Homo sapiens: one gene and its partner. The protein of the gene in region 2 purifies or fractionates together with the protein of the main gene of each other region. This does not show direct contact. Each region holds a gene or a part of one and is shown on either strand. Other genes may lie near its edges.

What was found. Proteins that work in one complex are often made in the same cells at the same time.
Region 1: the proteins of CIAO3 (region 2) and TULP3 purify together in Homo sapiens (co-immunoprecipitation; one large-scale study listed by IntAct). This does not show direct contact.

The regions. Positions count from the first base shown.
Region 1 is NC_000012.12:2,935,796-2,938,821, reverse strand, and holds part of TULP3 (tubby-related protein 3), read right to left. Parts: intron 1,192-3,026; coding exon 1,093-1,191; intron 709-1,092; coding exon 537-708; intron 1-536. UniProt on the Homo sapiens protein: Negative regulator of the Shh signaling transduction pathway: recruited to primary cilia via association with the IFT complex A (IFT-A) and is required for recruitment of G protein-coupled receptor GPR161 to cilia, a promoter of PKA-dependent basal repression machinery in Shh signaling.
Region 2 is NC_000016.10:734,408-738,059, reverse strand, and holds part of CIAO3 (cytosolic iron-sulfur assembly component 3), read left to right. Parts: intron 1-730; coding exon 731-874; intron 875-1,661; coding exon 1,662-1,794; intron 1,795-3,188; coding exon 3,189-3,323; intron 3,324-3,652.

The DNA.
Region 1 (3,026 bases), on a different chromosome or scaffold from region 2:
ACAACCTACTCTATGACTTCTCTGATTTTTTATTTTTTTCTGAGACAGGTTCTTGCTGTCACCCAGGCTGGAGAGCAGTGATGCAATCTCAGCTCACTGCAGCCTCGACCTCCTGGCTCAAGTGATGCTCCCACCTCAGCCTCCCGGGTAGCTGGGACTACAAGTGCCTGCCACCACGCCCAGCTAATTTTTCTATTTTTTGTAGAGATGGGGTTTCACACCATGTTGCCCAGGCTGGTCTCAAGCGATCTGCCCACCTCGGCCTCCCAAAGTGCTGGGATTACAGACGTGAGCCATGGTGCCCAGCCAACTTCTCTGATTTGCTATAGCATCTCTCTCACACTCCTCTCCCCTCCTCAACACAGTGATTTACAAGTTTTCTCTAAAACTGTAGTTTCATCTTTCCAAAGAAATCCTGTCTCTCCTCCATGATTATCTGCTGACTGTCACTTCCTATCATGTACAGGGAATGTGCATTCCCATCCTGTAAGAGCATCTGTCCTCCTCTTCCCACCCAACCCCTCCTGGAGGCTTACGGTCATTTTTGTGGACTATCTGGAAGTTCTTCACAGACGCCTGAGTGACCCGGCCACGGAAGTTGAGGACATAGGACTGAGTGTCACTGTTCCAGACGGGGGCCTTGTTGTGCAGCTCAACCAGATTTTCCATAGTTCTGTTCTGCCACCTTGAGAGCAAACTGTCATGGTTCTGTCCAAAGGGAAAATCATTACTTTGTACTGAGAACTCCAACTCTACGAGGTAGAAGGTAGAGTAGGAGAATACTTTCTCCATTTCAGAAAGGGTAAACCAGAAGCGAAGAATGAAAGCCAACAATGAAGACAGGTTTTTTTTAAAATTATTCTACATCATCCAGCATTTCTCTTTGTAGAAAAAATGGTTTCAAGGCAATGACTCTGCAACTGCTCTTATCCTGAGGTTTTGGAGGGGCAGCTTTCCTAAAGAAGTGTATGGAGCTATCTCCAGTGTGGGGCTCTGGAAGCTCAATCTTTTTTTTTTTTTTTGTATTAATCTCTGTGTATTGTACTACTGTCTTTTAGAGTCTTTCACTGATTTAAATACATTCTTACTCACGTTTTGTGGCTGATAGGGGATCTGCTTATGATTCAGTGTCATTCCAGGAATGATCACAGACATTTTCCTAGGACCTTTAAATCCAAGTACGTTTGTTTCCTGGAAGATAGGAAAACAAAGCAGAACTTGGAAACAGGAAAAAAATAGAGACCACATTCTTTTATAACATGAGACTTTCTTGGGAATGTAAGATGCTGACAATATCAGCTGTATCAGCCGGGGCAGTGGATCACGCCTATAATCCCAGCACTTTGGGAGGCCGAGGTGGGCAGATAACCTGAGGTCAGGAGTTTGAGACCAGCCTGGCCAACATGGTGAAACCCTGTCTCTACTAAAAATACAAAAATTAGCCAGGCGTGGTGGCAGGCGCCTGTAATCCCAGCTACTCGGGAGGCTGAGGCAGGAGAATTGCTTGAACCCAGGAGGCAGAGGCTGCAGTGAGCCGAGATCACGCCGTTGCACTCCAGCCTGGGCGACAAGAGTGAGACTCTGCCTCAGAAAAAAAAAAAAAAAAAAAAAAAAAAAAAAATCAGGTGTACCAAAAATAATTTTATTACTTTGCTGTAAACAGAATCAAAAACAGGAAAGTAATATTATATCTCTTTATACTTCTCTTTTTTTTTTTGAGACAGAGTCACGCTCTGTCGCCAGGCTGGAGTGCAGTGGCACAATCTCAGCTCACTGCAACCTCCAATCTCCACCTCCTGGGTTCAAGCGATTCCTGTGCCTCAGCCTGGGACTACAGGCGCATGCCACCACGCCTGGCTAATTATTTTTTGTATTTTTAGTAGAGACGGGGTTTCACCAAGTTGGCTAGGATGGTCTCGATCTCCTGACCTCGTGATCTGCCTGCCTCAGCCTCCCAAAGTGCTGGGATTACAGGCGTGAGCCACTGCACCTGGCCTATACCTTCTTTAAACACCTACATTTAAAACAGAATCTCTTGGCTTGAGAGTTTACTCTTAACTATTTTTTTTTTGGGACCAGAGTTTCACTCTTGTTGCCCAGGCTGGAGTATAATGGCACAATCTCAGCTCACCACAACCTCCGCCTCCCGGGTTCAAGCAATTTTCCTGCCTCAGCCTGAGTAGCTGGGATTATAGGCATGCGCCACCACACCCGGCTAATTTTGTATTTTTTTTTTTTTTTTAGTCGAGACGGGGTTTCTCCATGTTGGTCTCGAATTCCCGACCTCAGGTGATCCGCCCATCTTGGCCTCCCAAGGTGCTGTGACTACAGGAGTGAGCCACCACGCCCGGCCTCTTACTCTTGAGTCTTAAATGTGATTTGAGATAACTGTGAACAAACTGTTCAACTTTGTCAGCACCAACACATATTTATTTCCCAGTGAGGGCATAGCACTATATTACATACAGTGAAAATTAGTTGTGGTTAAATAAGGCCTGCACTAGGTATTAAAAATGCCTGTCAAGCCAAGCAGATTATTCTTATTTTATTTTGAGATGGCGTCTTGCTCTGTCACCCAGGCTGGAGTGCAGTGGCACAATCTTGGCTCATTGCAACCTCTGCCTCCTGGGTTCAAGCGATTCTCCTGCCTCAGCCTCCCGAGTAGCTGGGATTACAGGTGCCTGCCACCACGCCTGGCTAATTTTTTTTGTATTTTTAGTAGAGACGGGTTTTTGCCATGTTGGCCAGGCTGGTCTCCACCTCCTGACTTCAGGTGATCCACCGGCCTCGGCCTCCCAAAGTGCTGGGATTACAGGCGTGAGCCACCACGCCTGGCCGATTATTATTATTTTTTAAACAGGGTCTCATGCTGTCGCCCAGGCTAGAGTGCATGGTGTGATCACGGCTCACTGCAGCCTCGACCCTCCTAAGACTCAGGTGATCCTCTTGCCTCAGTGCCCCCAGTAGCTGGGACTCCAGCGACTGCCACCATGCCCGGCTAATTTTTGTATTTTTAGTAGAGATGG
Region 2 (3,652 bases):
AGGCCTAGCAGAGAGCTGGGCTGCGAGGGGTTCCCACACAGTTCCCACCCAGTCGCCTTACTCCTCTGGCTGTATTCCGGGCCACTGCAGCACCCCTGGCCCTGCTCAAACCATTCCTGCCTTTGCAGGAGAAGTTGGGGGAGCTCGAGCTGGGTGCGTTTTGCATGTAAGAAAAGTTGCTGAGGCATGTCCCGGAGGCCCCCGACTGGAACACCTTGTTCCTGCATCTGTTTGGCGAGTCTGACGGTTGTTTCTGCCCCGCCCACCGGAGGCCAGGCTCCCAGGCTTCCTCCCTCTGCTCTCCTCTTCCTGTGCCTTCGTCCTTTCCTCCTTTGTCCTCAGCTTTCCCGCCTCCTCCTTTCAGAGCCCACCTTCGGCATTTTCCTGCCCTACAGCCCTGTGAGTGTGCACCGGGGCCAGCACCCCGTCCAGGGCCCCATGGGTGAGTGGGGTGGCTGCTGCTTTGCTGAGATACCAGTGGCAAGCCTTAGTCCTGTGATTCGGATGCACTAACCAAGTGGTACCAAGAAGCAGACTTGACGGCATTATGAAACTGTAGAGCGTGCGTGTGCATTTTTGTAATACATACCTAATTTTTAAAAATTCAGCGGCACACAAGCCCAGCCAGCAGCCATGTTGGTTGTCGGTTATGAGCTGGACTCCACTATCCTCTGTCTCCATGTCCTCGTGCAGAGGGGGCCCCTGTGCACCGGGTTCTTCTCCCTTGTAGGACGGCGGGACCCGGAGGCTGGAGAAGGCCAAGGTCTCGCTAAACGACTGCCTGGCGTGCAGCGGCTGCATCACCTCCGCAGAGACCGTGCTTATCACCCAGCAGAGCCACGAGGAGCTGAAGAAGGTTCTAGATGCTAACAAGGTAAGCAGTGGTCGGCCTGGTGACTCTGCTTTAACCTGAAATCCATCCCAGCAGCCGACAACGCGTTTTGCCAAGGGCAGCTCGTGTGGTGCCGACGTCCGTCGTGCGGGTGGCGCCTGCCTTTTTGAGGCTTGGAATCTTGGTGATTTGTCAGTGGGCTCCAGTGGTGAACGTGTCAGGCCCCAAACTTCAGGTTCTAAATATACATCAAAATGACACCCCTACTGGGCGCGGGGGCTCACGCCTGTCATACCAGCACTTTGGGAGGCTGAGCCGGGTGGATCACCTGAGGTCAGGAGTTCGAGACCACCGTGGCCAACATGGTGAAACCCCGTCTCTACTAAAAATACAAGAATTAGCCAGGTGTGGTGGCACATGCCTGTAATCCAAGCTACTAGAGAGGCTGAGGCAGGAGAATCGCTTGAACCCAGGAGACAGAGGTTGCAGTGAGCCGAGATTGCGCCATTACACACCAGCCTGGTGATAGAGTGAGACTCCATCAAAAAAAAACGATACCCTTGGCCAGGCACGGTGGTTCACGCCTGTAATCCCATCTACCCAGGAGGCTGAACCTGGGAGGCGGAGGTTGCATGCAGTGAGCTCCGATCGCACCACTGCACTCCAGCCTGGGCAACAGAGTGAGACTCTGTGTTAAAAAAAAAAAAAAGACTCTTGATGGAGCTGGCCTGCCCTCTCCACAGCTGACAGCATCTCACCGTGCGGCTCTGGCCACCAGGAATCAGCATAAGGCCAGCAGAGTAAGCAGCGTCTTCCCCTTGCTTTGCAGATGGCGGCACCCAGTCAGCAGAGGCTGGTTGTAGTTTCGGTCTCACCACAGTCTAGAGCATCGCTGGCTGCACGGTTTCAGCTGAATCCTACAGATACTGCCAGGAAATTAACCTCATTCTTTAAAAAAATAGGTAGGCTTTGAACCTGGGGTAACACTGCCGCTCCAAATCAAGGGGGCGTCTGAGTAAGCCCAGGCCCCTCGCGCCTCTGAGTCACTGACACGCTACCCAGCCCTGAACTTCAGCGCTACAGAAACTTTATTCCCTCTGTGACCTCAGCCTGAAGTTTTGATTTGACATTTGAGAGCAGGGCCTTCTCACAGAACACGTCTGCATTCTGACTGTGCACTTTCTCTAAGCTGGGGCTGACCAACTCCTTGTACTTTTTAGCTGATAATATTAAGGCACTCTCTCCGGGGCTCTGTTGGGTTCAGCCAAGGTCAGCTTCTGCTGACTTTGGTTATGTGCCTGGAGCTGGGCTTGGGGAGGATCTGGGTGTCTTGAGAGCCCCCAGCTAACTAGGCTCCAGTGCCTGGTGTCTCACTGGGAATGAAGGGGCTGGACCTCATGGTTACTGTGTGCCTTTCACAGGTAACCACCATGTCCAGTCCCTTCATTCCCAGTGAGGCAGGCCTGTGCGCCTTGTAACCAGCAGACTGCCTGTCATCCAGCTGTGTCCCAGGTCCCTCACACTGGAAACCTGGTGACACTGGCAGGTGCCCCATGGCTCCTGTCTGACCCATATCCAGTTGGTGCCTGAGCAGTGCTCTGGCACTGGGAGCCTGACCTGGTGTCCCAGGGAAAACCTGGCCTGGGGCAGCCCATGGTTCTCCAGATGGAAGGTGTGGATTTCGTCCCCACCAGAATAGGAAGCAAGTTCAAAGATTTTTACTTAGAGATGATGATGACGGGCAAGTGGGGCACAGCGAGTCCTCCGACCACGGGTTACGCGAGGGAGGAATGACAAGTCAGGCAGAGAGAGAGGGACCCACACGCGGGTGCCTCTGCTGGGTCCAGGGCACGATCAGGCAGGTTTACTGAGCAGTTCTAATGGCTGGGCTTGGAGCTGGCTGGCGTGTTCCAGGAGTCCTGCTGTGTGTGAGGGGTGGCCACTATGGTAGGTCTGCACAGTCAGGGTCCGAGGGGCCAGTCCAGCAGGCTGCGTCCAGCTGTGCCCTAGGGAGGGTCACCGGGAGCAGCGCACGTGGCAATTCCCTGGACCAGCCACGCTGAAGAGCTGGGAGGGTGGAGGACTGAGCTGCTGGGTGGCTGCCTCTGGGGTGGGAAACCAAGGCCTGGGTTCACAGGGGATGCCGAGGCAACGTGGCTTTAGGAGGTCCCCACAGTGGGGCTGGGGCTTTGGCGCAACGTGGCTTTAGGAGGTCCCCACGGTGGGGCCGGGGCTTTGGCACGGCAAGCAGGTGCGACACACGTGCCCTGGCAGCACCATGGTGGTCCACACGCCGGCGTGTGCTCGTGTGGGCGTCCCGCATGGGGTTAACCAGGCACCCACCTTCACCTTCCAGGGGTGCACTTCGTCTTCGACACCGCCTTCTCAAGGCACTTCAGCCTCCTGGAGAGCCAGCGAGAGTTTGTGCGGCGATTCCGAGGACAGGCCGACTGCAGACAGGCGCTGCCCCTGCTGGCCTCTGCCTGCCCAGGTGTGCTCATGGTGCGGGTGGTGGGAGAGTCAAGTTCAAGTGCAGTTGAAACGTGAGGTGATATGGACACAAATGACAAGGCGGGGGCATGGGGGGTGGAGACGCAAGCAGGTTTTGCGGGACGGGTTGGAAATGTTGGCACAAATGGCCTTTTCTGGAGAAGAGGCTGCCCTCCCGTGGGAGCCACGCGCAGTCACCTCAGGTCCCTAGGCGGTGTCGCCTGCACGCCGAGCTCCGCGTGGTGGTGGGGAGAACAGGAATGAGCACTCTTTAATGTCATCATGATCTCCTGTATGAGCGGGCCCGCCCCCAGAATGTCGTGCTGCTGC